Linked DNA regions of Homo sapiens: regions 2, 3, 4 and 5 are each linked to region 1. The links come from fine-mapping of genetic effects on gene expression. A gene starts in region 1. Each other region holds a variant in brackets. All regions are shown on one strand. Distances are from middle to middle. Region 1 holds the start of ZFAT (zinc finger and AT-hook domain containing). Region 2 overlaps ZFAT (zinc finger and AT-hook domain containing). Region 3 overlaps ZFAT (zinc finger and AT-hook domain containing). Region 4 has its middle 200 kb from the start of KHDRBS3. Region 5 overlaps ZFAT (zinc finger and AT-hook domain containing).

The links. PIP is the estimated chance that this variant, and not a neighbour inherited with it, causes the effect.
Region 2: its variant is the best candidate, but not a certain one, in a credible set for the expression of ZFAT in esophagus muscle (GTEx, PIP 0.85).
Region 3: its variant is the best candidate, but not a certain one, in a credible set for the expression of ZFAT in subcutaneous fat (TwinsUK, PIP 0.52).
Region 4: its variant is the best candidate, but not a certain one, in a credible set for the expression of ZFAT in subcutaneous fat (TwinsUK, PIP 0.82).
Region 5: its variant is the best candidate, but not a certain one, in a credible set for the expression of ZFAT in tibial artery (GTEx, PIP 0.81).

What each region holds. Positions count from the first base shown.
Region 1 is chr8:134,710,369-134,716,530 of GRCh38, forward strand. It overlaps ZFAT (zinc finger and AT-hook domain containing), which reads right to left and starts at 2,663. Exons shown (of 16, transcript NM_020863.4): 1 at 2,477-2,663. The coding sequence starts at 2,495. RefSeq lists an enhancer at 2,495-2,674.
Region 2 is chr8:134,513,224-134,519,385 of GRCh38, forward strand. The region is part of intron 13 of ZFAT (zinc finger and AT-hook domain containing); the gene reads right to left. Among named protein-coding and RNA genes, the nearest start is that of ZFAT, 200 kb to the right of the region's middle. The variant T/C (reference allele first, on the strand shown) is at 3,139.
Region 3 is chr8:134,502,355-134,508,516 of GRCh38, forward strand. All of the region lies in intron 15 of ZFAT (zinc finger and AT-hook domain containing), which reads right to left. Among named protein-coding and RNA genes, the nearest start is that of ZFAT, 210 kb to the right of the region's middle. The variant T/C (reference allele first, on the strand shown) is at 3,358.
Region 4 is chr8:135,649,585-135,655,746 of GRCh38, forward strand. It overlaps a transcript of KHDRBS3 not described here. Among named protein-coding and RNA genes, the nearest start is that of KHDRBS3, 200 kb to the left of the region's middle. The variant T/G (reference allele first, on the strand shown) is at 3,213.
Region 5 is chr8:134,524,164-134,530,325 of GRCh38, forward strand. The region is part of intron 12 of ZFAT (zinc finger and AT-hook domain containing); the gene reads right to left. Among named protein-coding and RNA genes, the nearest start is that of ZFAT, 190 kb to the right of the region's middle. The variant C/G (reference allele first, on the strand shown) is at 3,177.

The DNA.
Region 1 (6,162 bases):
AATGGACTAATGCCAGCTCCTGCAATAAACCTCTGAAACCAATGGTCTTTGTTTCAAAACCGCTTAGGTGGACTTCCCTTTTGGGTCTTTAAAAGTTTCCATTTGCCCCAACTTCTTTGGACGTACCTATGATCCAGCATAGCGCATGTATCTAAATTGCAATCCCCTATTATTCCCAAATAAACTACAGTTTCAGGATCCCATATCCAAAATGCTTGGGACCAGAAGTTTTAGAATTCCAGATGTTTTTGGATTTTGGAATATTTGCATATACATAGTGAGATAACCTGAGGATGGGACCCAAGTCTAAACATGAAATTTATTTATGTTTGATGTGCACCTTATACACACAGTCTGAAGGTAATTTTACAATATTTTTAATTTTGATCATGAAACAAAGTGTACAATGAACCATCAGAAAGCAAAGGTGTCACTATCTCAGCCACACATATGGGCAATCTGTGGTTGTCTGGCATCGCCATCATTCCCGACTCTGAATTTCTATGCTACCAATAAGACAATCACTTTCTTACATTTATTTACACATAAGTCCTTACCAGTAAAAAATATGACACACCATTAATACAGTGAAAAACAAGGTGTTCAAGGTACCTAAGCGGCACAGCAGCATCACCAGAACACATGCATCAGCTGCTAAACAACAGAACAATAAACAACGGCTGGCTTTAAGTCTGCTGTTCAGCCTGCATTTCTTTCTGAGTGTTAACAGCATCGTCTTTACAGTTGTGCAACTGTTGTTTTGTTTTGTTTTTTGAGAAAAATAGAGATGGGGTTTCACTACACTGCCCAGGCTGGTCTTGAACTCCTGGACTCAAGGGACCCTCCCGCCTCAGACTCCCAGAGTGCTGGGATTACAGGCGTGAGCTACTGCGCCCGGCTATGGAACTGCATTTCTGCTGAGAACCTTCACGAGGTCAGATAGAAAATTTTCCACTGTGGCCTCATGTCAGTGCTCAAAGTTTCAGACTTTGGAGCATTTCCGATTTCGGATTTTTGGATTAGGGATGCTCAACCTGTATTTGGAGAGCAAGTCTCTCCGGTGCTCATTTTAGGCTAACCTAAGACAGCACACCTGAATCAGCTGGGCACCACAGCTAATCAGCGCACCTGTGGTCACAGCTACTTGGCAGGCTGAGGCGGGAGGTTTACCTGAGGGCGGGAGGCAGAGGTTGCAGTGACCCGAGATTGCACCATTGCACCCCGGCCTGAGTGATAGTGCGGGACTCTGTCCCAAAAAATTAAAAAAATTAAATTAAAAAAAAGCACGCCTGATATAGTTCGGGTCTCCTGACCCAATATTCGGCTCTGGGCCCACTCTGTCACTCCAGGACACATTCTCCCACATCTAGCACCGCAGCAGGTGGAGGCAGGACTACGACTGGGACTGCTCTTTACCCCTGCCTGGCGTGCAGAGGGGATCCTTGCAAAGCTGTTATTTGAACTAAAGTCAGGAAAGGTGTCCCTGGGGGTTAGAGGTAGGACACGCTACTTCCTTCAGCATGGGGACACACACTACAGATGTTTCAGTAGATGAACTGGTAGGCTCGGAAGATAAAGCTGGTGAGAGGCAGCTGTGCGGGGCATCTCCAAAAGGTCACTTGGACTCCAGCAAAAAAAGCCAGACTGATGGGCAGGCGTGATCAGTTAGCGCGTTCGTTCTTTCATTCACTAAGTATATAGTGAACACTTACATGAGCCAAGCCCTATTCTAAGAAGATGGAGGTACAAGTCAGGCGAGCACGCAGGAGTTTGGATTTTAGCCCAAGTTGGAGGAAGTTAATTTTTAAAGCCCCAGCTCTGTCGTTTTTAAACTGTGTAAAGTTGACCTCTCTGAACTTCTGTTCCTCATAATAAATGACCTACAAATTAGAGTTCTCAAGAGAGCTGAGCAGCAAAACGTGTTAAGTCAGTGCCCAAATGTGGAAGCTTGTGGTAATTACAGGTGAAGGACCCCAAGCTCAAGGTTAAATGACTTGCACCGGGTGTCAAGTGGAAGATCTGTCACTCTATTAGGTCCAGCCGGCGGCCGGGAAGCCTGCAGGAGGTACTCATTTCGCCAAGGAGGAATCCGAGGCCAGGCAAGAAGGAAGCCCCGCCAAGGTCCAGTCAAAGAGCTGGCATCGCCGGGATTCGAACCTCGCGCCCACTGCGTTCCGTCGCTGGCCCGCGCCCCAACGCCACCCATTGCCGTGGAAACGGCCGGGCGCATGCTCTCCCACTCGCTCCCGCCTTGCTTTTTTTTTTTTTTTGCGGCGGGATACCCCAGCGACTGAACGTGAGCCGCAGAACGCAACTACGTTCGCTCTCCTCCCCAGACCCGGATCCCTCCGCGGCCGGCGGCCGGCGGCCGGCGGCCGGCGCACTGCTTCCCGACTCGACGCTCGAAACGGCTTTCCGCGCGCCGCGCCGCGCCCCACCCCCACCCCGTCTCACCCCAACCCCCAGCCCGGCTCACCTGCCGCCCGCGTCTCCATGGCAACGCCCCACCGCGGAGGAAAAAAAAGCCTCGGGCTCTTCCGGGCCCCCTCCCGTGCCGACCGAGGGGGCGGGGCGCCCTGCTGACGCTTCGCTTTTTATTTTTATTTTTTTAAGAAAAGAGCCGGCGAGGTTATGGCGAATCTGCGGCATCCAACATGGCGGATGGAGTCTTCGCCCTCCTCCCCACGGGGCGCAGACGCCTGCGTAGCGGACGTCCGCTTCGGGTGACCCTCCCCCGGCGCCGAGCGCGGCCCGGCAGGGCCGAGCTAACGCGCATGCTCGCAGTCGGAGGCCGTGCTTTTTATCCCACTTCACGGATTCCGCTGCGCCGCGTTTTGAGCCACGCCCAGGGAGGGGCCCTCGGGAGGTCCGGAGCGCGGATCTCGGGGTCAGGAGTCTGGCGGTTGTGCCAGGCCTCTGCTAGCGCGACCCTAGACCCGCGGCATGTGGGGCCGCCGAGCTGGGCGTGCAAGGAGAGTTCTGGGTGCGCTTCGTGTCCCAGCTCTACCTCTCACTACCTAACTTGGGGCAGCGAATTAACTTTTCTTGCTCTCAGTTTACTGATGTGTCCATCGGGGTGCTCCCAACCTGCATCCCGCTCAAAGCTGCGGCGTTTCCCGAAGCGTGGGGTGCTTTCCTTTGGGCCACCCGGCTGGGTTTTAGGGGCTACAGAGCACTGAGCGGCCTACGATCACACGTGACAAGGCGACTTCCTCCTCTCTCGTCTCTTTTTGTCCCACAACAAGTCTGCACTGGATGTGCGCGCCTCCAACACCCGCTCATTCATTTCTCTGCTTGTGGCACAGCCTTCGGCAGGCAGCTGAGTCTGGTGGAAATTTAATGACTTTGTTTTTGGTTTTGATGTTAAGGTGTTTAGCTCCAACACTGTAGTCCTCGGCTCAAATGATATCTTCCAGCCCCTAACCCTCACCCCCCGAAACCCATCTAAAGTAACCCTCCAAGACACTTCATATTTTCTACGTAGCATCCATTCCTATCTGTCATTATCTCCCTCCCTTACCTCTGTCAATGGTCACCCCGTTAGCCTCAGAAACAAACTGAGCCTGACAGTTATTTATTTCATGAGTAATGAGTTGATGTGGTCCATGTTCTAAGGTCATTTTCTGTTCATGACAAATAACGTTTTTCACTTACAGTAGTCATATAAAGTTTTTAAATTGTTCGTTTACATTTTCAAAAATCAGTCAACTTAAAATGGTGTACATGCTGCAAAGACATGCCCCCCCCCCCCCAAAAAAAAAAAGTGTAAAAGCAGACTTCAGGAGACTGAAGTTTGGGAAACTGATTTGTGTTCATGGTTCCCCTGAAATGCTAGTCTTTGCCTGTTCTTCTTTTCCTGGAATAACCCTCTTTGGTTGCTGCTCAACATGAAATTCTCGGACAGCCCTGAAGTTCACACTTCATGTTCCCACAGCTCTGGTCTCACTGGCCTAGCTCCATCCCCCACTTCTCTGTTTGCACAGCGTTCATCCTCACTAGACTGAGCTTCCTGAGCAGCCCTTATAGGTCCTTTTCATCTTGTTTTCTCAGCGCCTGTTGCATAGTCATATTACTGAATGAACACTTCGTTCTGGGGTCACTTATTTTTTAGGAGGAAAACTCCCTTGGGCATTGAGCTTCAGGATGACTCATCTGATTTCTCAGGAGACTGCCCGCCTGCTCCTTAACCCTGTTCTTGGGAAATACGGAACCATGAAAAGACCCTAAAGTTGTCCAGTCTGTTAAATATATGCTCACAGATATAGCCTCCCCCTTCTTCATTTCATCCTCGCAATCTGGAAGGTTAAGTTGGGCAATATGATTATTGTCCTTTTCCAGATGAGAAAATGGAATGTTCAGAGTGGTCAAATGGCTTTCTGAGATTACACAGCAAAATAGTGAAGAGCCAGGTGTGGATCTCGCCTCTCCATGCCCAGTGTTCCTCTCCCCACCACATCTAAAATGTACCCAAACTGCCCCCCAGGCCTCCAGGAGAGCCTCCAAGAGAGCCAGTTCCAAGACAGCCACAGAGTCGCTTCACAGCCACCACGTCCTCCACCACAAGATACATGGCTAGGTGGGGCCCATCAGAATCTTTATTTGGAAATGAACTGCTCAAAAAGCTGCATTGATGAGCGTTTCCTTTTAGAACTATAAATATTTACAATAATCATTATTTTGCTGTGAATCGATTTCTGTCAGGAAATTAGAGTTGTTCTGGGTTGCTGACAGTATTGGTTTTGTGCCGGTTTGCCTTTCTCACAGCAGCGTTTAAATGTTGTTTATTGATTAGCAGATGGATTGCTCCTAGATGTTGTGACCAAACGAATTTTGGAAATGAAACAATTTAAAATTTGTCTCAAAACCCAATTACCTCAGACTGCTGAAGACAAATTAAAAGAAGAAATTGTGGACTGTGGATGATGGTTCTGGGTTAATTATTTGGAAAGCTATGATTTTCTCCACTATTCCCATGGCATTTTCTTCCTCCTACCCATTCATCATTCAGAGAAGAGTTACTGAGCACCTATTATTACTGGAAACTGTCCTGGCCATAGGCAGATGGAAATGACTAAGAGATGGCCCCTTTCTGTGGGGGAATCCAGGTTCGTAAATGGAGAGATGAGTCCACAGCTGGCTCTTCCACGGCCTTACTATGTGATTTGCACATTTTCAATCAGCAAACATCTCTATTCTTTCTATTTGCCAGTAATATTTCAGAATGCCTTCAATTAATGAAGACACATTTGTGGAATTGGATGTAAATCACTCGAAAGTATATAATTAATGGCAAGCTGCCTCGGTGATGGTTCCTAGAAGAGAGCGGCTTCCCAGCTGACCACTGGTGGCAGTTGGCCTCTTGAAGCTAGTATGTGAATTAATTTGTGTCAATAAATTTATCGACATGAAATGGTATTTAGTTATATAAGAAATATAATTTGCACAACTGAATATATTCGTGTCAATAATTTTATCATTATATCCAATATCTTTATGAGAAATAGACATTTACATGAAAACAATAATTTAGGAACATAATTTCACAGGATGCTTTCTTGAAAGAAGGTTTTGATAAAGGATACATACAGGCGACCTCAAAATAATGGATCTTGGCTGGGCATGGTGGCTCATGCCTGTAATCCTAACACTATGGGAGGCCAAGGCTGGAGGATTGCTTGAGCCCAGGAGCTCAAGGCTGCAATAAGCTGTGATCATGCCACTGCACTCCTCCAACCTGGGCAGCAACAAAGCAAGACCCTGTCCCTAAAATTTATTTATATATATATATATATGTATATATGCACACACACACACATATATATATATATGCATATGTATGCACACACACATATATATCTATAAAATGATAAAATCAGAGGTGGGAATAATCAGTTTGGGTTAACAGTTAAAAATCTAAATAGGCACATTGTAGAAAATAATCCACTTAAAAATCATATAAAAGAGAAGGATGTAGTAATGCTAGAACTATATGAGCAATCTCACTATGAACATAATTACAAGATTAGGAAACAGCATCTTTTCCACCTGTCTTTCCAGTGGCCATGGAGTGCCATCACATCCCCGGTCTGCCTGTGCACACCTGTGTGTACTCTCAGTACCCAAGTATTAATCTCCGGAGTGGTTTTCATTAGCAGTAGCCAG
Region 2 (6,162 bases), 200 kb before region 1:
GTCTCGCTCTGTCACCCAGGCTGGAGCGCGGTGGCGCGATCTCAGCTCACTGCAATCTCTGCCCGCCAGGTTCAAGCGATTCTCCTGCCTCAGCCTCCCGAGTGCCTGGGATTACAGGCACGCACCACCACACCTAGCTAATTTTTGTATTTTTAGTATTTTTAGTTTCACCATGTTGGCCAGGATGGTCTCGATCTCCTGAGCCTCCCAAAGTGTTGGGATTACAGGTGTGAGCCACCACGCTCGGCTGTGCCATTCTTATTCGAACATGAAAGTGTAAGAAATAAAACTGACTACAAGAAATATATTTGCACAAAATCAGGACTTGCGAGGGTAGGAGGAGTTAAAGTGGCATTCACAGGTACCTCGTGCCTCAAAGAGAGAAGAGGTGGAACAGAATTTTTACAGAACTAGATGTTAATAATTATCTCTTTCTGGAAGGGGCAGAGAGTGCAAGCAAAACTGTAAGGCTGGATGCATGAATGTCACCAATCAAGAAGAACAAAAAGAAGGACTTCAGACAAAATCTACAGGTGCCAAGTTATGCTCTATAAGCATATATCAGTAAATGACATAGAGGTTCAGAATAGCATATAATATTCCTTCACAGCCAACTGGCCAAGTCCATTTAGGTGTTTCCATCCTGACATATAGTAGTCACCCAAAAAATATTCAATGAATGCATAAATGAACAAAAAGAAGAACATTTTGTTCTCAGTACCATGAGGCAACAGATTAGCCGACAGTAGATCCAGGCAATGCCTGAGCCCGTGAAAGGACAGGATGCAACCTGAAAGGTTCCTCCTCATTCTGGGGAAAGCATGTCATAGTTGCTGTCAGGAAGGCTGGTACTCGTTGCAAGGCATTCCTGGGAGCCAGGTGACACACACATTGCTGGAAGAGGTGGCTTGTTACTCCACTGGTGACCACTTCATGGCAGCTTCCTGGCTGTTCACCATCTCATGGAGATGAGTATGGAGTCAACTACCCAGTCTTATGTCAACTATTTCTGTTGGGTTCACGGCTCTGCATAAAGTGCTAGCATCAGCTGGAAGCGAGGCTTTACTGCATGCTTTTATAAAAGCACCGACTGACAAGATAGATTGAGTTTTACATCAGTAATTGACACTCGAGTGTCTATTTTGTTAATGAAGAGTAAATTCTTCCAGTATGTACTAATACTTGAAACACTAGGTGACTAATTGTTTTTGCATAGATGAAGATGTAAAAGTGATCATCATCAACATCCGCAATAATCATAGCAGCTGCCATTTTTGAGGGCCTCCAGGGGCTCATTCAGGCCTCAGCATTTTACAAATGGTTTCTCTCAGTGCTTCTGAGCTCTCAGGGATTATCAGCCTACTGTACAGAGCAGAACACTGAGCCATGAGGGTTAAAAAATGGCTCAAGGGCAAGCAGTTTATAGGTGACAGAGGATTCAAAGTTAAGTCTGTCAGACTCCAAAACTCTTACTTTTTAAAAGAATGTTTATAAAAAAATTTTCAATACACAAGAGCAGAGAGACGGGTCTAATAAACCTCCATGTGTCCATTAACCAACTTCAGCAATTATCAATCATGGCAAGTCTTTCCTTTTTTAATTATACTCTAAGTTCTGGGGTACATGTGCAGAACATGCAGGTTTGTTACATAAGTATACACGTGCCATGGTGGTTTGCTGCACCCATCAACTCGTCATCTACATTAGGTATTTCTCCTAATGCTATCCCTCCCCTAGCCCTCCACCCCCAACAGGCCCTGGTGTGTGACGTTCCCCTCCCTGTGTCCATGTGTTCTCATTGTTCAACTCCCATTTATGAGTGAGAACATGTAGTGTTTGGTTTTCTGTTCCTGTGTTAGTTTGCTGAGAATGATGGTTTTCAGCTTCATCCATGTGCCTGCAAAGGACATGAACTCATCTTTTTTATGGCTGCATAGTATTCCATGGTGTATGTGTACTGAATTTTCTTTATGCAGTCTATCATTGATGGGCATTTGGGTTGGTTCCAAGTCTTTGCTATTGTGAATAGTGCTGCAATAAACATACGTGTGTGCATGTGTCCTTATAGTAGAATGATTTATAATCCTTTGGGTATATGCCCAGTAATGGGATTGCTGGGTCAAATGGTATTTCTGGTTCTAGATCCTTGAGGAATCACCACACCGTCTTCCACGACGGGCAAACTAATTTACATTCCCACCAACAGTGTAAAAGCATTCCTATTTCTCCACATCCTCTCCACCATCTGTTGTTTCCTGACTTTTTAATGATCACCATTCTAACTGGCGTGAGATGGTATCTCATTGTGGTTTTGATTTGCATTTCTCTGATGGCCAGTGATGATGAGCTTTTTTTCATATGTTTGTTGGCTGCATAAATGTCTTCTTTTGAGAAGTATCTGTTCATATTCTTTGCCCACTTTTTGATGGGGTTGTTTTTTTCTTGTAAATTTGTTTAAGTTCCTTGTAGATTCTGGATATTAGCCCTTTGTCAGATGGATAGATTGCAAAAATTTTCTCCCATTCTGTAGGTTGAATCATGGCCAGACTTTCTTGGACTATGTTTCCATGTACTCCATGCCCTGCCCCAGGATTATTCTGAAGCAAATCCTGAAATCATTATTTGCCCCATAAATATTTCATACTGTCTCTCTAAAAAATAAAACTCATCCAAAAAAGAACTACAATGCTCCTGTCACACTCAAAAACTTTACAATAAATCCTTAACATCATCAATGGTCTAGACAATGTTTAAATTTCCCCAATTACCTCACTTTTTAGGTTTGTTCAAATCAAATCTAAATGAGGTTCACACATTAGAACTGATTAATATGTCTCATAAGACTTAAAATCCATATGCTCTCCCTCCATTTCTGGCTTTTCTCCCCTTGTAGTTTATTTGTTGAAGACAGCAGGGTGTTTGCCTTAGAGAGCTGTCAGCAATCTAAGTTTCGCTGATTGCATCACCATGGAATTGACCAATGTTCCTCCATCCATGGTGTTTTCTGTAAATTGGTCACTGGATACAAATACAAAAGCTTAATTAGATTCAGATTCCTTTTTGCAAAGAATGCTTCATGGGTTATATTGGGCAGTTCTTTCAGGAGACACGCTTTGGATGGTGGTCTCTTTTATGTAA[T/C]GTTAGCAGTAACTGATGATCATTGCTAAACCCATGACATCATTAGAAGGTTGCAACATGGTAATATTCTAATTTTTCATGTGTTAGTTGAAATATTTCAAAAGAAAAAACTTCCCCTCATCGAATGTTTGGTTATGTTTACATAGGGTTTTGTTTTGTTCTGTTTTGTTTTGTTTTTAAAGGTAGAATAGGGCTGGGTATGGTGGCTCACACTTGTATTCCCAGCACTTCGGGAAGCCAGGGTGGGAAGATTGCTTGAGGCCAGGAGTTTGAGACCAGCCTAGGCAACAAAGAGAAATCCTGTCTCTATTTTTAAAAAATTTCAAAAAATTATAGTGCTTGCCTATAATCCTATCTACTTGGAAGATAGTAGATAGGACTATCTACTGTCTCCTGAGGTAAGAGAATTGCTTGAGCCCAGGAGTTCCAGGTTGCAGTGAGCTATGAAGGGAGGCTCCATGGCATGCCGGCCTGGGTAGCCAGACCCTATCTCTCAAAAAAAACTAAAAAATAAAGGTAGAACAATGGCTTGATTCTTGGTCTTAATTTACCAATTTTCAAAATAAAGAGTTGATTCTCTAACATTCTACAAAGGTGACTGAATTGTTTTTTCCAAATATCATTATAAACTTACAGAATTAAACATATTTTATGTGTTTCGCTGTCATTATTAAACACTAGTAACAGCCTCAGAATCACAATATTGTCCTTACTACCAACAATACTTGATAACTGCAGTTTTTGCAGTTTGTTTTGCCCTTAGGTTACATCCCAATCAAATAACTGTTTTGAAGTCTCTTGAAATTGTTCCTCTCCACGTAGTCACCAATTTGATATACAGTTAGAATAATTTATTTCATTTTACTCACAATGTTTAAGACTTGCTTTTTAAGTTTAATTTTGTTATTATTATATAAAATACTTTTACAATATTTTATATATAATCAGAGTCAAATCTACACAGCAGGGTATTTTGAGAAATTTAGCTTCTCCCCATCCCTTCCATCTTGCTCTCTGTCTCCTTTCCCTACATATAATGACCCCATTTCTTATCTTTTGTAACTGCTTTACTTTGAAAATAATTTTAGACTTACACAAGACTTCCAAAGATGTAAAGTGCTGCAACAGAGAGTTCCTGGAGACCCTTTACCCAGCCTCCCCTAATCTTAACATCTTTCGTAATCATGGCGCAATGATCAAAACAAGAAATTAACATTTGGATACTATTACTAATTAAACAATAGGCTTTCTCCAGATTCCTCCGGTTTTCTCATTAATGTTCTTTCTCTGTTTCAGGATCCAATTCTGCATCCCACAGCACATTTAGCCATCATGCCTCCGTTGTCTCCTCCTGGCTGTGAAAGTTCCTCAGACTTTCCATATCTTTCATGACCTTGACGCTTTTGAGGAGTACAGATGAGGTATTTGACCACACCCATCATTTGGATTTGTCCAATGGTTTCTGATAATTAGGCTGAGGTTGAAGATTTCAGTTAAGAATACCATGAGATGAAGTGTCTTCTCATCTGATCACATGGTATCAGGTCACACATGATGTCAGCATGCTTCATTACTGATGATGCCAACCTCTACTGCTTGGTGAAGGTGGTACCTCCACCATAAAGTTCCTATTTTTGCCTTCTGTAATTAACAAATATTTGGAAGGAGATATTCAGAGTTTATGTGAATATCTCATTTCTCCTTAAACTTTTGCCTACTAACTTTAGCACTCATTAACGGATCTCATCTGCTATGATTGTTCCTGTGGTATTCTAATAGTAACTTTCTATTTCCCTCATTCCTTCTACATTTATTAATCATTATTTTTTGGAGGAAATGCATAGTTCCTTCTCCCACATTTATTTATTCAATCATTTATTTATGTCAGTATGGACACAGTGTCCCAGTGAAACTTTGGGATGGTTTCCTAACAGTTGGATTATTGAATTAATGGATAAAGAAATGCAAATGTAATTTTGTTACATATTGCTATTCTCTTCATAAGGCTGGGCCATTTTACATTCCCACCAGCAACGTATGAGAGCAGATTTCCCCACAGCTTTTCCAGCAGAGATAATGTCAAACTTTTGGATCTCTGTCAAGCTAGTAGGTGAGAAATTCCATCCAGGGCTAATTTTAATGAAAATTTCTTTCCTTACATGTGAGGCTGATCATGTTTTCAGATATTCGATGTTATTTACATTTTCTTTTCCCTGAACCTTTCTTATCTCTTGTCCATTTTTCTAAAGGGTTGATCTTTCTCATCACTATTTTTATAGGCCTTTTATAAAGATATTAATTTTTTCTATATAAAAAAATATTTTTATCATTTATCTTTTTACTTATTTATGAGCTCTCAGTTTATAGATGAATTCAATTATGCTTTCTTCTAGTATTTGTAAAATATTACTGTTTCTATATTTAAATATCTGATCCTTTTGAAATTTTTCTCATATAACTTTATATGTTATAGTAAACAGATTCAATTTTATCTTTTTTCAGATAGCTATTTAGCTATCCTGTGTCACTTATCAAAAAGCCCACCTTTCTCCTACCAACTTGAGACACCATCTTTATCATATACTAAATTTCCATATGTCATTGGGTCTATTCTAAATTTTCTGTTCGATTCCATTAAACCATCTGTTCATGCACACTTAGAGAGATTTCATAATATGTTTTAATATCTGGTAGGATTCTCCTCTTATGGTTGTTATTCCCAAGGGTTTCCTAGTTAATTGTACTTACTCTTCCAAATGAACTTTAGAAATCAACTTGATTAGCTCCAGAAAAAATCTAATGGTATTTAGATTACATGTAATATGTAATAGATCATATTACCTTGATAAATTATTGTATAAATTACTTTCAGGGGAATTAACATCTTTATGATATTGAGTATTCCCATTAATTTCCTCAACTCTAGGTTTATGTCTCTTTCAGAAGTGTTTTATAGTCTCCCATATTTACATTTTGGGCATTTTTTATAAGGTTTATGCCTAGATTTATCTTGGTTTTGTTTCC
Region 3 (6,162 bases), 210 kb before region 1:
ATTAAAACACGACAGATTGGACATGCACTTCCTTGCAAACAGGCAACTGGTGTATATGGTCTCCACTGAAGTAGAGTGCCTTTTCTTGCAAAAAACAATGAACTGCAAATAACAAACAGCAATTCCAACCCTGGCTGGCAACCAACATATGTCTTCCAGCAAGAACTGCTACTTAAGCTCCCTCTCAGGCTTCACGCTGTATGCTGAGCCCAGGGTGGGGGCTCTGCCTGCTCTTCTCCCAACACTGCCAACCATCACGGGGACCCACTTGAAGGCTGAAGGTGGCAAAGGTTGTGTAGAAGCAGTTGGGAGAAGAAGGTGGGGTGATTTGGGCAAAGCTGGAGTTCCTGCTTGGTTTTCTGTTTGTTTCGTTTTGATCAGTGGTTAAAGCATGTCAGAGGAGCACTTGGGATTTTGAACAAGATTAAGGCAGAATAATTCTGTGCTGTGCCCGGCTAAGGGCCTTCATGGGGAAGAGGTGGGTGCCCATGGGTCTGAGGCAGTCCAAATTGCTCCTTCCCACTGAGGCCCCAGCACACAGTGTGGAAGCATCTAGCACATTGCAGGAAAACAACCAACAAAAGAGAGGGGCAACCCCAGGAGGCACTAAAACTGGCAGGCAGTGTGTGTGACACCCCATCCCCACCCCAGGCTCATAAGCCAGGGCAGCCAACTCCTGGGCTGCAGGGGAAATGCCTGATGTGGACAGAGACAAAGGCCTGCCACGTAGAGTGCTGCTAACACTAGTTCCTACTAGACATCTACTCCCATGGGGGCAGTGGCAACAATGGTTTGCTTACTCATGGCCAGGAGGATTGAGTGGAGTGCTGGTGCTCCATGGAGGACTCCTGGGGGTTAGTGTGCCATGCTGGCACAGTCCTCAGCTGTCACTCTCTCAAGGATACACAGGATAGAGCTGATTCCTGAATCTTGAACCAAAATCTCAGCTGTGATAGAAATACGGATCTGCCAATGGATGTGTTTTCTGGAAGCTACTAAATCACCATGAAATCTGTCCACCAAAATTGTCTCTGTGAAACTGAGAATTTCACCCTTGAAGCAAATAACAGTTTTTCACTGACAAAACAGACACTCATACCCTGAAACATATTTGTACATGTGTAATAGTTCATTTTATATGTCAACTTGACTGGGCCATGGGTGCCCAGATATTCGGTCATACATTATTCTAGGTATGGCTGTGATGGTGTTTTTGGATGAGATTAACATTTAAACTGGCAGACTGAATAAAGCAAATGGCCCTCCCTAGTGTGGGTGGGGCCCATCCAATCAGCTGATGGCCTAAATAGAATTAAAAAGGTGACCCTCCCCTTTTGAAAAGGAGGGAATTCTTCCTCCCAACAGCCTTCAAGCCAGGACACTGGTTTTTCCTGCCTTTGATCTCAAGCTGAAACACTGGCCCTTCCTGTGTCCTAAGCCTGCCAGCCTTCAAATTGGAGTCACACCATTGGCTCTCCTGGGACCCCAGCTTGCTGACAGCAGACATTGGGATTTGTCAACCTCCACAGTCACATCAGCCAATTCCTTCTTTTGAACACAAACACACACACACACACACGCACACGCACACGAACACACACACACCCCTATGAGTTCTGTTTCTCTAAGAAACTCTGACAAACACAACGTATTTCTTATCAGGTCTCAGTAAAGCAGGAATGGTGGCCGAGTCACAGAGAAGCAGGCTTGGTAAAGTGCATGCTGCTGGACAGCCTCACTTGGACAAGACTGCATCAGGTAAGCTCTTGTACACAGGGGAGTGTCCTGGCCATTCGTATGTGCACATGGACTGAAAAGTAACTTGTACAATGAACGAATGACCCACACCACTTCACTGGGAGCCCAACTCCCTCCCCCACCTCAGAGGCTGACACCCCACAATGCCCTAGCACCCCCAGTCTGCTGTTTAGGGCAAACCCTCAGCAGTAAAAACAATACAAAATTAACACAAAACTCAGAAAGACCGAAGATTATCATAAAGGCAAACTGTTCAATCATCCTGACCTTCTTAAAAAGAAGATGCTGTGTCATCATAAGGTGTACTTATTACTTAAAACACCCCCAGGGAAAGAAGAAAGGGCACGGTGCAGTAGCTGGCTCGGTGAACCCAGGAACAAGAGGCCAAGACAAATGTCAGTGACAGTCTTAGACAGGCACTGATTGTTCTGCTAAATATCAAGGGGCAGGAATGCTCAGTGCAGGTTCACTATTTGCAAGAACCAAGAAATTGTCATTTGTTAAAAACGCCAACATGACTTCAAGAGGGTAACATAGGTCAGGAAGCCCATGGCCAAAGGACATTATGCCCTAGGACATGCCATAAGGCTATAAACTGCTTGGACTCCAAGTGGGCAGAAGGGCGGAAGGGAGAGACCAGGCTGAGATACTTCCGAGACTTGGAATCCTTGGCCCATGTTACAACCAGGCAAGTCATTACTCTATGCAGGCCCTCTTCCACCACCCCTACCTCTGCCTCCAGTCACCCAGCTGGCGCCAGCCACCAGCTCCTGTACCCACTCCTGCCTGGAGCCCTGCTCCCACCCTACACTCACAAGGCCTCCCTGCTCAGCACCTGCCCCCACCCCAGACCCAGGTACACGGGCCCCTGGTGCTCCCCACAGCACTCCTGGGTCCCTGGGCCACCTCCCTGAAGCATTCATCACTCTCGATCGGAACTGCCTGTTTAAGGCTGCATTTTCCATACCTCTTGACCAGTTCTGATTGTTCTTTTTTCCAGTGTACTTTTTGCCTCTAACGTACTATTATAATTTACTTATTACATGTATATGGATTGGCTATCTACCCCAATTAAAACGTAAGCTTCTCGACCATATCATTCACCTGATATGTTCACTGAAATATCCCAAGTGCTGAGAACAGTGACTGGCTGGTAAAAGCAGCTCAAGGTATATTTGTTGCATGAAAAAATAAGTCATTTCCCTTGTTAGACTATTTGCCTCTTGAGAGCAGGAACAATCTTAATTCTGTAGCCCAGTGTGGTGGGCACAGTAATGCCCGCACCCCTCAACCAAAGCTGTCCATGTCCTCATCTTTGAGGCCTGTGAATATGTTGCCTTATATAGCAAAGAAGAATGTGTAAATGTGATCACATTAAGGAGCTGGTGACAGAGAAGCCATCCCAGGTGGACAGTCCTGGATTATCTGGGTGGGTCCAATGTCATCAGAAGGGCCCTTTAAAAAGGGAGTAGGAAGGCTGGCAATCGCAATTTGCCCCTGGAAACAGAGGTCAGAGTGAGTGGATGTCAGACCTTAGCCTGCCGTTGCTGGCTCTGGGGATGGAGGAAGGGAGCCTCGGGTCAAGGAGTGCAGGTGGCC[T/C]CTAGATGCCCAAAAAGGCAAGAAAGGAATCTTTCCCAGAAACACTGTAGCTCTCTCGACACCTTGAGTTTAGCACAGGAAGCACTGCAGACTTCTGACCTCCAGAATTGTAAGACAGTATCAGTTTGTGTTGTTTTAAACCATAAATTTGTGGTAATTTGTGGCAGTGGCAATAGGAAATTAACACAACCAGAGACTGAACACAGAGTGGTTGCTCAGTAAATGCCTGCTAAATGAGTGCCCGTCAACCATACATACAATGTTACTTTGAGTCTAAAATAAAATTTAATCATAAGAACATCCATCAGTGATTTAAGCCATGAGCCACTGGTGATGACTATTGCTGTTATTTTCTTTGGTTTTTCTTTTCCTTTAAATAACTAATTTTGACTCAGAGATGCTCATGATAGCATTTCCTGTGCGGCTAGCTGTCTTCCATTTACCTTCTTAGGCAGTTCTATTTATCAAATACAAATTTCCTCCTCATAAAACCTTAACGCAAGATTTAACAACACTAACAAAAGTAATCACCTTATTTAATGAAAACTGTCAGGTTTAACAAACACACATTTAGTTGCACTCAGGTTCTCATCTGGGCCCTTCTGCCAGGCTGGAGTGGGGCACGCAAGCATGATTCTTTCTGAGCGTTGGGAGATGCTCGGGCCCCATGAATCTATTTTTAATGCCAACACTCAAGAAAAGAGGGAAAGTGACAAGAAGTCGTTGAGGACAGATTTCTGTGTCCAACAAAGAATTTAAATGGTCTCAATTATGGGCAAAATCTTTTCCTTGTCTCTTTAAAGACCAAGAAGCAAACAGTTTTTTCCCAGCTCTCTTCTCTCCAACACTGCCAGCCCCGTACCAGGCCTGCCATTACTTTCATCCCAGAAGCTGAAAACCCCAGAAGACTTGGGATTAATCCCTTTCAGTGATTATTGATGAATTTTGATATATAAGATTCTTTTCAATTAACATTAACAAGTCATGAAAAATTGTAAATAGAGTATATATCTATTTGTTTATGAGAAATAAATTTTGAAATGTTTAACCATCCAGAAGCAACTTATGTACAATGTAGAATTTGTTTTGTTTTTGGTCTTGTGGAAGATGTATATAAAAGAGATCCAAAAAGATCTCAAAAGATGCTATCCCATAGTAATCTGAAACATTGTTCTGCGATATACATCACATACTTTATGATGAGGAATTCTTGCTTTTTTCTCTCCGGCAATACTGATTTGTAGGATACAATTGAAGAATCAAAACCTCCAACATAGTCAATTCTATTTCATAACATTTTTTAAGCAACTACTATGTGTGATGTCTTGGGTTTGAGCAAGAGAAAGCCCCTGACATCAAGGTCCCTCCCACAGGAGGAAAAGCTTTCCTCTTTCCAACTGGTGCAACAGAGTTCACATTTCATTGCTTCAGCACAGTTATTAAGCAGATATAATTTCTTGACTGAAAAAATCCTAAACCAGAGTTTAATTAAAAGAAAAAGGTTGAAACCAATTTTTCTAATAAATACTGCTATATTTCAATTTAAACTATACGACAATGGAATTCAGAGGGCATCCTTTCACCTGGGAGAGCCTGAAACACTTCATTTCCTTTGCTATAGGAGTGGTGCTCAGCGTCTACCCGCCCATCAGTCTGTCCACCCACTCTCCTCTCTGTCATTTATCAACAGCCACCGTGAGCGAGGTGCGGGGCCAGGCAGACAAGATAATGGCCAGGACATACACCTTCTTGGGGAACATTTCCAAATGCAGTTCCCCACGACTGTGTTCAACAGCACCACTCTTTGCTGTGTTTGCAATAAGAAAGAAGATCCTCAGAAGGGCGGCACTGTTTTCTCCTCCCGCAAACACATTTAGCTTGTCGACACTGGTCGTTCTGGATGCTTATCTGCCTCATCCCTTGTGGTGCTGTCAGTCTGATGCCTCAAAGCATATCTAAGCTATAACCCAACCCCTGTGACCTCGTGTATCACTGCATTGCCTGCGAGGCTCAATAAATCATGTCTCCCAGCAGCAGCAAATCAATCTAGTTCTCAGAAACAAGACACAAGTCACAACCAGAAGCACCTTCCTGCACTCTCAAAAGGATTTTGCGTGTATGAAACATTCAAAGTCCTCCTGATACCATCCCAGAGAGACCCTTCCTAAAGTACCAGGTCCAGCTGGGGACTCCACATGTCAAGATGCAAATGAGGAGTTTCAGAAGATATTTATAAGACAATCTGAAGACTGCAATCTAGTAAACACCAAGAAAAGCTAAAAAGGTACTTAGCCTGGAAGTGTATGAATCTTTTCTCAGCCAACGCAGATACCAGGTTGCTACAGACTGAAGCATCCCCCTGCCTACTCTCCAGCTCGACTCCTGAGAGAAATCACACTGTGGAGGAGGGATTTTAGGACATGTGATCCAAACATTCATCTAGATATGCTAAGTCTTGTCCGTAGGTCAAGAAACCCAAGAGGTGAACCTGAATGTACTTACTAATTCCCCCAGAGAACTACTTGGCCTGAATTTCATGCTTTGCATTGTGCCCTGGGCACACTCAGGGGACAGTTGTGGAGACAGCGCTGGGATGTCCCCTCCTGGCTCATGAGGTCACCAGGCACACATCACTCAGGCGTCCTTATGTGAGTGCCTCATTAAGAAATATCTTATTTGTTAGTGCCAAGAAAAGCTAACCCCCTTCCTGAGTTAACTGTTTAACGTCTCCTTTTTGTTTTCTGTTACACAATTCAGTAACAAATTTAGTCAATTTCAGACAACTCTAGTAATACACACCTCTTC
Region 4 (6,162 bases), 940 kb after region 1:
TTGTTTGTCTGTTTGGATTTTTGTTGTTGTTCGTTTTTCTCTTGTACGGAATGGGAATGTGACGTCCACCACATCTCTGTAGTGTGTGATGTTATTGAAATTTTTCACAATTTTTTTCTTTATTAAATAATTTTTTTAAGGAGTTGGCATACAGAATAATAAGAATTATGGAGAGGTAGAGGGTCAATCCTCAGGTGCTATTCAGAGTTAATTAACAGGAAATACTGTACAATTTTATGTTTATTGTCATTTTTTCAAAGCTTCCATAGCTTTATCAGACTGTAAAAGGAATTGTGACCCAGAAAGGCCCAGATCACTATCCGACAGGAACTTTCCTACTTGGCCTTTGAGATCTTCTCTTATCTGGCTGATGCTCCACCAGACCTGATTTTTTTCTATTTCCATGGGAAGACCCTGCTATAGATAAGCCAGTCTTCTCACGTCTCTAAGAGCACATTTCATTGTTCCCAAATCGCTTCCCCCTAACCTTTGTTTTCACCCCCTTGGAATTCATTTATTTTCTCATATGGCAGCATATATGGAACATGAGCTCCATACTGGACACAACAGAGGCACTGGTCATACAAAGACTGATAAGACATGGAACCCGGTATTCAAATACCGCAAAACCGAATGGAGGTGACAGCCCCATGACACACAACTTTGCTATTGCCTGTATCTTTGCATGAAGAAACCATACCCGTCCTTCAGAACTCAGCCCCATGCCCTCTCTTCCATGATGTCCTCACCAGTTAAATCAGGCTGTGATCCTCCACCCTCTCTAAAGAGCATGCTTGGTTTATATTTCCTCATTTTAGTATTGGTATCATATGACACATATTGGTTGTAAGTTGCCATAAAAGCCAAGCATGTGCTTATCACTTTCTGTAGATTATTTTATTGAATCCTCACAGCCATAAGAAGGTATCATCTACATTTTTAAAAAGGAAGAAATTTAAGCTTCAGGAGGTGAATTTCACACTTATGTTGCTCATGTACCTTATAACTGGTAGAGCCCGGATTTGAACCGATTGACTTCAATCCAGAGTCTTTGATCTTAACCATGTTGTTATACTGTCATTCTTTATATTACAGTGGCTCCTCCCTTAGATTAAAGGCTCTTTAAGAGCAGAAGCCTTTAATTTGTGTTACCTTGTATCCCAGAGAGTATCTCACACAACACTGAGCATTGTGATAACTGCCCCCTTCTCTTTCTCTACCCCGCCCCTGCACCAGATTCCTTCATGGAGAGAGTCTTTCACTTGTTTAGGTTCTGAATCTTCTTATACTCAGGTATTCCAAGTCAAGTCAGTATCATTATTTACTCAGATATATTTCCTGAACACCTGCTGTGTTGCAGATGGTAGGAAGACAGTGATTAAAGACATCATTGTTGTCCTTGCAAGTGCCACAGTCTACTGGGGAAATGGGCAAAGACCACGTCTGTAAAGCTCTGACAGAGATACATGTGCTTTCTAGGCACATGGAAGGGAGATGTGTAACCCAGGCAAGTTGGTCAGAGGTAGCAGAAGGGGCCCATGGAGATATTAAGACCAATAGAAGATAACCACACAGGGCAGGTACTCTCAGAGCATCCATACTTCCGCTCTGCCCTTCACCCGCTTTGTGACCTTGAGTCAGTAAGTTAACCTCTCTAAACAAGAGTCTAAACTGCAGGTTCCCCACTTATAAAATAGACATAGTCTATATATATATTTATATATATATATGATATATAAAATATCATAGTCATGATACCTTAGTATTGCTGTGAAGATTAGAAGCATGCCTGGGACAAATAAAGGTGTTCACTCATTGGTTGCTATATGTAAATATTTGCAATTATAAGAAAACATGATCATTGAGGAAACTTCAGGTATATTAGATAATTAGAGAAAGTAAGAGACCATGCTGGCTGGGTAGGACAAGGGACATGTAATGAAGGGTCTTGTAGGTTCTGCTAAGAAGCTCAAATTCAGTGCAACCATTTTCAAGTGTAGTATCCTCTTTGCCTTTAAGCTTGGCCTACTCCATTCCCTTGGGCAGATATAGTGCCTCATTTAGTCTGTGTTCCAAAAAGAACTCTACAAGCTTCTGTTTCCACTGGTTAGTGATTTTACAGTGCCTTAAAAAATAGTTGCTCTCACTTTTTCATCCTCTTGTCCCCATCTCTTCACATAGTTATTTGACAGTGTAAGGGTTTAGTAAGTGAATGGTATTGTCACTGTGAGCAAGATGATTCCTAACAGGCAGTGTTAGGAACGGTTAGCCCAGACCCCAAAAAACCCACACAGTCATGTTAACGATACTATAATTTAGATAGTCTAGCTCCCTTGTTTAACTCAAAATGAAAGACTCTGGTCACTGTATACAGAGACAGGTTCCAGAATGTAAAACTAATGATTTGAAGAAAAAATAAAATTGTAGAGTCAAAAGTTAAATGAAAATATGAGACATTTTATAGAATATGTGACAAATTTAAGGAATAAAGTTTATTTTCTGTGCAAACAATATCTACTATTTATATTGATATTCAGTGTTTTGTAGGGACAGAAAGGAAAAAATCCATCATTATTTTAAAATAACAGTCTATTTTATGCCTGATTCTGTTTCTATTTCTGATTGGGAAAGGCTACAGATCATTTTTCAATCTGAATTTCACCCTCCCTTATCGATGGAAAATCCCGTCCAGTTGAAGTTGATTCTGACTGACATTCCTGTTTCAAAAATCTCAGTAATGTATTTCAGTGATTAGCATCCATTGCTGAAATCATTTTTCAGATCTTAATGTGATGAGTCCTTCGGTGACTTTCAGGATAATGCTCAGCCTCCTTGGCTCTGAACCTCAAGCCGTGTGTGATTCTGCTGCTGGCCTGCCCAGCCGCCTGGAGCACAGCATGCTCTGACCCCAGCCCACTGTGGTCCAGCCCTGATAGATTGAAAACCATCTAGAGCTTTTCTATCAGTGCCATTCTCTGCCTGAAGTAACAGTTCCGTACCCCACTCAAATAAATGCACACAAATGAATGAACACAACTCTTACCCAGCTCTTGGTCTAGCTAGCTGTTGCTGGCCTATCCAGACTTCCCAGTGGAGCTTGAAGCATCCCCTCACCCTGGAGGCCCTCCCTAGCCTGCCATCTTCGCAGCTCTACTATGGACCCTCATCTTGCTCTATGAATTCTGCAATACAGCATCCTGAGATTGGCTGTT[T/G]ACCCTCCTTTCCTCCCACCAGATTGTAAATATCTTTAGGGCAATTACCATGCCTTATGCCTAGTAAGTGGTAAATGAACAAGTCGTTGGATGTATGAGTGAATAAAGTGGATGTGGTAGCTCAGTGGCTGATAGTACAGGACAATGTACTAGGTCTTGTTTGGCCTTATTCGATTAAATTAGTCATCCTTTCATTTGAGGAGAACTTACCAGGTTATTAAGTTCTGTCCTGTGTGTTTATCTCATTTGAACTGCTGCTGGCGGGATTTGTGTGTCTGCTGCCTAACACAGGTCCTAGTACCTAACAGACAGTCAAAACAAGGAGATAGAATAAACAAACAGGTACCATTGTGAAGTGTGCGGGGATGGTGGTGTTATCCTGAGGCTAGATTTCTGTTCTGCTTGTTGGTGGGTTTTTCTCCCTGACTGCAAGACTTGAAGTTCCTTAAAGATAGAAGAACCATGTCTTATTGGACTTGTACTTCCAAATCCTAGCACACTGCCTGGCACATAGACATAGTGGGAACTGACAGGGTGTTCAGTGAGGAACGAATGAGTGAACAAATGAACCTGTAATTCTTGAAACACTGACACTGAGCACTTTTCAGTACAGACAGTCCCTACTACAATAGTTTGACTTAGAACATTTCCCCTTTACAGTGGTGGAAATGTAGTACATGTTCAGTAGAAACTGTACTTCAGATTTTGAATATGTATCTTTTCTGCAGCTAGCCATAGTGGTATGATACTCTTGCCATGCCAGGCAATGGCAGTGAGCCATTTTGTTTTTCACTTTGAGTACAGCATTCAAAAATTACTTGAGATATCAAACTTTATTATAAAATAGGCCTTGTGTTCGATGATTCAGCCCAACCGTATGCTAATGTAAGTGTTTTGAGTATGTTTAAGGTAGGCTAAGCTAAGCTATGATGTTTGGTAGGTTAAGTGTATTGCATACATTTCCAACTTAATGTTTTTGACTTACAGTGGGTTTATGAGGACATAACCCCATCCTAAGATGAGGAGCATTTGTATTAATTTGTTTTCTTAGTGGAAGTGTGATATTTCTCTAACCATTAGATTTTTTTCAATGATAAATGCGAAGTTGGAAAACCAAAATATGCCCTTTATTTAGTCAGTAATACATGTGCTTGGTACAAAATATATACACACAATGGTGTTAATTCCCACCTTTACCCCCACACACCCACAGGTAACTATTTGTATTGATTTTCATGTATCTTTCCAGAGATAGTCTGTGCATAAGTAAAGCATTTTTTTAAATTATCACTATTTTTTACATAGAAAACAATATACCATTTTCTCCCCTTGTTTCACTTTGAAGTATGTCTTAGAGCTCATTTTCTGTTATTTTATACTAGAAAGCTACCTTTTTCTTTTTATTGGCTGAATATTTATATGAAAGAGCCATAATCCAAACAACTACTGACAGAGATGTAGTTAGTTTCTAATATTTTGCTCACATTAAAGGCAATGCAAGAAGCCATGTTTATAAACATCTGTGGAATGAATTTTTAAAGTAGACCTACTGGGCTTTTATAGATGTTTCCCATAGAGGTCATGGTGCATCTTCATATGCTTTTGTAAAAGAAACCTATCTAAATGCTACATGTATTCATTATGATCTATAAGATTAGCTCCTGTGGCCACACCAGAAACTCATCTGCTCAAAAGTTGGTTTAAAATGGTCTTTTATACACAGCATGGCGTCTGGCATGTGGCAGGCTGGTTACCCTGTGTGATTTAGCGAAGAGATGCAGGGCGTGCTGGGTCCAGTAAGGACACCTCCTGGACACTCGTCTGTGTCTTATGGGGAGAGCTGAAAGTCCTGCGACCCTTCCTCAGACTCCTGCTGGTCTCCTCACATTCCTGGAGCTTATTTACATCAGCAAGTGTATTGTTAAGGGCTGGCCCGTGGTGGGGCAGGCTTTGTGGAAAGTAAGGTGGCCACACCAGGGTAGCAGGAGAGGCCGACAGGCTCTCTGAGGAAACAGACAGGATCTCCTCTAGCACTCCCCTGCACGGGCTCATTGCCCACCCTCTCTTCTTCTCTGGTTATCCAGATCCTCCCATTTCTTCAAGATCTTTTATCTCTCTCAGCCAAAAGAGCCTTCTCTTCTCTCCGCATGAGAATCCTGGCTGAGAGGACTGGATTGGCAGATGTCTCATTCTGACCTGCCGGTTGATGGGATGGTGCTGTGTAAATGTCCTTCATCCCTTGTATGCTCCTTGAGGGTCACAGGTGTGTCTGTCACATTTTATAAACCTGAAAGCATTCAGCACAAGCCATTCAAGAAATATTTATTGGTTAATTAAGGCAATGCCCTCATCAATAGATTTACTGTATTAGATGTTTAACTTTTTAGAGGATTCACCTTTAAATAACAGTTTGCATCTGATTCATCCTAGCAGTACTGATGCTTTATGCAGGTGACACTGAGACGCCCACCGTGTCCCTGGCACTCTGCAGCAATAAAAGGCTAGAGAAGGGCAGGGATGGTGCAGAGGAGAAAGGGATGAACTTGCTCCGAGGACAAAGGAAGAAATAAAACCTGAATGGAGTTTTGAAAGTCGAAATCTTGCAAGCCAGGAAGGGAGGAGAAAATGTGAAGACATAATAAGCTAATACAGGTGGGAGAGGAGGGTGTCAACCAAGACATGAAATGGCGTCATGTGTTTTAGGAACGTATAAGCAGCTGCTGGAATATAACATGCTGGGAGAGAAATGAAAGAGATGCATCTGGAGACAGAGGAAGGGGCTGGGTCCTATGGAGCCATCGGCGATGTCCTGAGTTGTTTTGAGCACACTTTGTGGTATCAAACACTTACCTAGGGCCTGGGACTTGTATGACCAGAGTCGTGAGAAGTCAACATCACCACAATGGCCATTTCTCTGCTGCGATTGGGTTTTTTGTTTGTTTGTTTGTTT
Region 5 (6,162 bases), 190 kb before region 1:
CCCTCTGTACACATCTGTCCCCTCACCAAATAAGTGTGTTCAGTGTTATCCGAGGGCCTGCCTTGGTGCCGGTCTATCTTCCCCTTTCCTTCACAGCCAGGATTCTGTGGAGTCTCCACTTCCAAGAACTCACTAGAAAGAGGTGCTGTTAGTGATGCTCTGGGGTGGACAACAGGCTGGGATGCAAGTGGAGGAGGCCAGCATTCACATCTCCTCCATCTTTCAAATTTTATTCCATGGGAGAGTAACTGCCCTATTCAAAATAATTACTGAAATTAAGATTATAAATTTAAACTAGAAAAATAATATGAATTCTTCACTTCCCTGTCTCTCTTCATTACTTAGGCCAGTGGTTCTAAACTATGGACAATTTTCCTCCCAGACAGGCAATGTATGGAGGAACTTTTGGTTGGCACAACTGGGGGGTGCCCAGGGCATCCAGTGGGTAGAGGCCAGGGATGCTGCTACATACCCTACAACACACAGGACAGCCCCCAAAACAAACACTGGCCTGGCCCCGATTGTAAGCAGTACTGAGGTTGAGAAGCCCTGCCTCACACCATAGCATGCTGCTTCCTGCACTCAGTCCTCTCCTGGTATTGCACATGTCAGGATCAGCTAACATCCTCATTGGTTAATCCAATGAATACTCTTCACTCTTTATCTTACCACTAGTACCACCACCAACACTACTAATAGCAATAACAACATATGTCTTCCACTAACTGGGCAGTTACCATGCATCAGGCACCTCATACATCAAGTCATGGTTTCTTCACAACAGCGCAATGACACAGGCATGCTTAGCTTGTTTTATACAGAGGCTTGGGATGGTGAAGTAACCCTACTGAGGTCACACTGGCAAAGTTAAGAACTGAATCTAAGTCTAACACACATCCTTAACCCCAGCCTTTGCTATTGTCCACTGTGACTTCTCTGCATTATATGGCGATGCTGACCACATTCTCCAGTCAAGATCTAGTTTTTCAGGGCTTCTGTGACACCACTCACTCCTGGTTCTTCTACCAAGCACCTCTCCAACTCAAATCCCTGTACAGCCTTCTCATCCTCTGTGTGGAGTCCTAAAGCCTCACAAACAGTCCCCTCTATATCTCTGATATGCAGGTCCAGTGATGTCCCAAAGTATCCCACCTCCCCAATATACATGTGAGCTGAACAAACCACTAAGATGCTTATACTTAGGCAACGAAAGAGCTGAGCTGACCACTGAGTGTATCTCAGGCTGCTATGTTTATGTATTGCTCATTAGGGTACTCGGGAAGAAATGGAGGAATTCTGTCCTGATATCAAGGTTGTCTGGACAAATTATACCAGATAAACCTCACGGGGATGTGGCCCACATTTAGTCATCTCCCAGATGCAGTTTTGATGCGCTCAATCTCCAAATCAATTCCGTGTCAGTGGAATCAAGACAGAGCAGTGTTCTATTATTGGGGTTTCTGTTCTATCAGCTGAGGTTGTGGGTAATTTTCCAAAGAGTCACTAGTACAGAGGCCAACCTGCCAGCCACATGCAGCCCCAGCACCTCCGCCCACTGCTTCCTGGCCCCAACCCTGGTGGAGGCAGAGGAGGGCACCGAGGCAGAAGGCGCCCGCTGTCAGCAGAAAGACTGGCAACAAACACTAAATTCTTAAATTCTAGAATATTCTGCTGAAAAGACAGCTCAGATGGATGTTTATTTTCTGAAAGTCAAACATACTGTGCTGTTTTTTAGGCAAAAACAAATGAGCTTCTTTCTTGCCCAGAGGATAAACTTCATTTTTAACTTCCTTTGTTATTGCTTTTTTAAATCAGATAAAATCATGTCTTTTCCTTCAATCACCTTTTAAAAACCTCCAAGTTATGAAGACCTCCACTTTTTGTTGTTGTTGTTGTTGTTAAGCTGATGTTGCTTCTCCTATAAAGACTTAATATGTGATGATGAACAAAGGCAAACTTTTAAAGGTTAAACTTAGGCTTTAAAATGAAATTAAAGGTTCCTTCTGGGATATTCTTTAGTGGAAACTAATTCAGAGAGGAAAACATTCTTATATTATATTTAAATTAAACTTAATATGATAATGCCCCCACATTAATTAAAACTTCAGCCTTTGCCACAGTGACTTTAATTAAAGAACAACAAATGAAAATATGTAATCTAGACTGAATGTATAACTATGCCAGTTAATTGACATCAAAGCTGAGAGAAATTAATTTCTATTTGGATTCATTAAATTCTTAGGCAATGCACAGTAAAGGTCAACGGAAGACTTGGTGAATTTACTCATGGCACTGATATTAAGTGCACACCATAAAAACCAGGAGTCCTCAAATCACAATTTCCTCCCACGGACTGATTAATCAGGTGAAAATATAGAATTTCAAGAGAAATTTAAAAAAACTGATGATGGTACGCTTTGCTCTTTTTGGAATGCAATATATTCTGGAGCAGTTTCAGGCATTAAAATATCTCTGCTCCTTTGTGGTGCTTGACGTTATTGAAAATTCAATTTCATTTTCAATAATATAACTCCCAGAATGGCATACAACACTGGGTTGGGCAGTCACAAGACCTGAATCTGGCACTTGCTCAGGTAAGCCAAAGCTTCCTGAAACTCTTGGGTCTTGGTTTTCTCTTCTATGAAGGTGAAGATGCTAAAGTTCATATTCTTTTTTTTTATTTTTTATTTTTTTTTGAGATGAGCCACTGCAATAAAGTTCCTATTCTTAAAAAAGGCACTGAGTACAGTAGGCAGAATAATGAGTCCCTGAAGACAGCCACATCCTAATCCCCAGAACATGTGAACATGTTACCTTACATGGCAAAAACGATGTGATTCAGTTCAGGATCTTGAGAGGGGGAGGTCATTCTGGTTTCTCCGAGTGGGCCTAATGCTATCACAGGGGTCATTATAAGAAGAAGGCAGGAGAGGGCACAGAGATGCAATCTGAGAGAAGCTCCACTGGCCATTTCTGGCTTTGAAGGTGGAGAAGGGGGTCACAGGGCAAGGAATGTAGGTAGCCTCTAGAGGCTAGAAAAGGCCAGGAAAGGGATTCTCCCCTAGAGTCTCCAGAAGGAATATTTGTTAGCACTTTGATGTTAACTTGGTGAGACTCATTTTGGACTTCTGGCCTTCAGAACTAAGATAATAAAACTGTGTTGTTTTAATCCACCA[C/G]GAAGTGTGTGGTGACTTGTTACAGTAGCTACAGGCAACTAACACAGGCACTGACAGATACGAATACGGATAAGGACAAGGAACAAAAGCAGGTAAATTATCCAAGGAAAGTGGATATGGAAAAATTGTATTAGATTAACAAGTGAATATGGAATAGAATTTTGCTGACATTTGCACTTCCTACTGTCTCTTAACTCAGTGTCTGTCCTAGGCCCAGCCAGGGCCCCAGTTCAGAGCTAGGAAGTGCTTAAGGGTAGAAATTAACCGGAAGTCACATGCAAGCACTGAGGTGGAGGGTTCCTGGTGACATGGCATGCAATATTAGATCCTACCTGGGACTATCTGAATCCTATTTAAATCCCAGCCCCTCTTCCCACAGGATCCTCAAGAAAAAGAGCAAAAGGGAAAATGCAGCAGAGGAAACAAAGTGCATTTTATTATCAGCCAAGCTGATATCCCAAACCCAATAAGAAACACTTGGCAGAGGAGCATAAGCAAGGTCTTCCCATCCGCCCCCTCCCCTCACATACGCCCCCAAATCTTGGGATCTGAGACACTCTGGATTACCATAGGGAAGGACTTGCAAAGAAATAGGTTTCAGAGTCAGTCTTGGGTCAGATTAGCAATTAGCCTCGGGGATGAAGAAATAAGAGAAAATAAACAGTATCCATGTGTGTGACTTTTCCACCAACTACCAGCAAATGTGGCCCAATTGCTTAAGAGATGACCACGCCTCTTCCTTCTCCTCCTCTTTCTCCTCCTCCTCTCTAATAAGTGCAAACATCTACAAACTTTAGGGGACATCAAACATGGGAGTGGCAAAGGCACAGACGTTGAATCAGGAGACTGAGTTTGGCTTGGCCACTTGCTTGCTTGGTGTGACCTGAGGTCAGTCATTAGCACTCCCTTCATTTCTTTATTTCACAATAGGAACGATTATGCCAAGCTCACAGGGCCATTGTGAGAGATAAATTAACACATAAAATAACAATCAATAACACAGCATTATATCACATCACTAGAAGCATGTGCCAAGAACTTATTGAATCTGGGCCCTAATAAAAACAATTTTAAAATTAAGATGTCTAAAAATCAAATACATCACCTGTGGGTTACCTCACAGTTTCTGGATTTCCTGCTATGCTATTTTCCCTGAATCTGGTGTAAAAAACTAATACACAAATATACATCCAAGGTACACATGCATACATATTTACATTTTTCTAATATAGCACTTCAAAGTAACATAAAGATTCTAGCAGACGCCAAATACTAAGACGTCTCCTTGACACTTCTCCTCTTATTGCTTCCTCTTCCTCCAGTTACCCACCCTTACACTTCAATGACTCTAAAACTGGGGGACACAGCCCTCTGGGAGAAGCAGCTAACTCCGCTCCAGGGCACAGCTGAAGGGGATGTATTCCTTCTGCTGTAATTAGAATACAGAGCTTTGGCGGGAGCTGCCTAGCCCTGGTCCGCAACCTGGGCAGGAATAACAATAATACCACCAACGACTGCCTTGTTTGACACCAAGTCCCAGTGCCTAGCATGGTTCCAGGCACACTGTAGGCGCTTGAGAGATACATGCTCAAAGTAGAAATATGCAGATAAATGTAATAGTGGATTTGAGCCATTCATCAAGAACTTACTGTCGGCACTCTCTGGGAATCTTAGAGAATGATATCTAATCTTTGCAACTGCTGTGGAGGTAGGTTATGAGCCTTCCTCTTTGGTGGTATATAAACCAAGATTCAGAGAGGTTAAGTACCTGGTCCAAGGTCCACAGTGATCAAAAATCCCGGCCCAGGTCCATCTGACTCCCAAGCGTGTGGTCATTCCAATAACCTAGAGAGACTTGAGGGAGGGCTTGGAAGCCACTGGAAAGCCCACTAAACCCCATCCTCACCCTGCTACATGCTCTAGGAGTGAGCAAAAGATTCATAAAGCTTAGCACCAAAGTATCTGATGCCTCTCACAGCCTGTGATTTACTGAACCAGTTCTTGAGCTAGCTTAATCAGGTGTATTTTAAGGGGAGGAAAGGGGCAGGCCCACTGAAGCAATACAAGTATTTCTTCCTTAAACAGCATGAAACGTGCATTTGTGTGGGAGAATGCTTCAAATCCATATTAATGAAGAAGTGATGGCTAAGAGGAATCTGTCTTCAAAGCATCAGATGCACATAAAATATAAGCCAGGAGTATAATATTTACATAGTGCTCAGTACTACCTTAATTACTACAAAGTATCAGAGTACTGAGGGATCAGTACATCCAGACAGGCCCTGGTGGCAGACACCTGGCAATGTCACCCAGTGCCCTCAGGGTGAAAGGTACGTGGGAACCAAGATACGCAAGCTCATAAGCCAAATGTGCACATGTCCCCGCTCCACGTTGAGGGACATCATGTGAGCAGCTTAAACTTGGCCATGGTAGAAGTATTTACACTACAGAAATTGGCAAATTCTACAAGTCATGTTTCCCCTCCCTCCTACTTGGGAAGAGCCTTAGCAGCCACTCTTCCCAGCAAGCTTTGGGAACACACTGTAAACCACCCAAACTCCATGGAGAATGCCATAGTACCTTCCCTTAGAAACCCACACAGAACAGAAGTATCTGATGTGGGAACCCTCAGCTCCTTTTAGGCCATTTTCCTGACCTCCTCTGCAGCACTGTGCACTGAACCCCTCCCTGGAATCCCAGGATCCCTGTGGCATAGCAGGCAGGAGGGTCTTTCCTAGGAATCAATAGCTTTGCACATGTCACAGTGTGACACTGTTTAACACAGCTGATACACAAGGAATCCCTGCACATGGTTTAAAGGAGACTGTAAAATCCTTTTGAGAAAAATACATGTTATTTGTGTTTTTTATGATGTTATTTTAAGACATCTTCCTCTATATCAAAACATGAAATTATAAAGTCTCATGAAGATATTTTTGGGGGAGTAGAAGAGGAAAATAAAACCAAATAGGGATGGAGAGAGTTA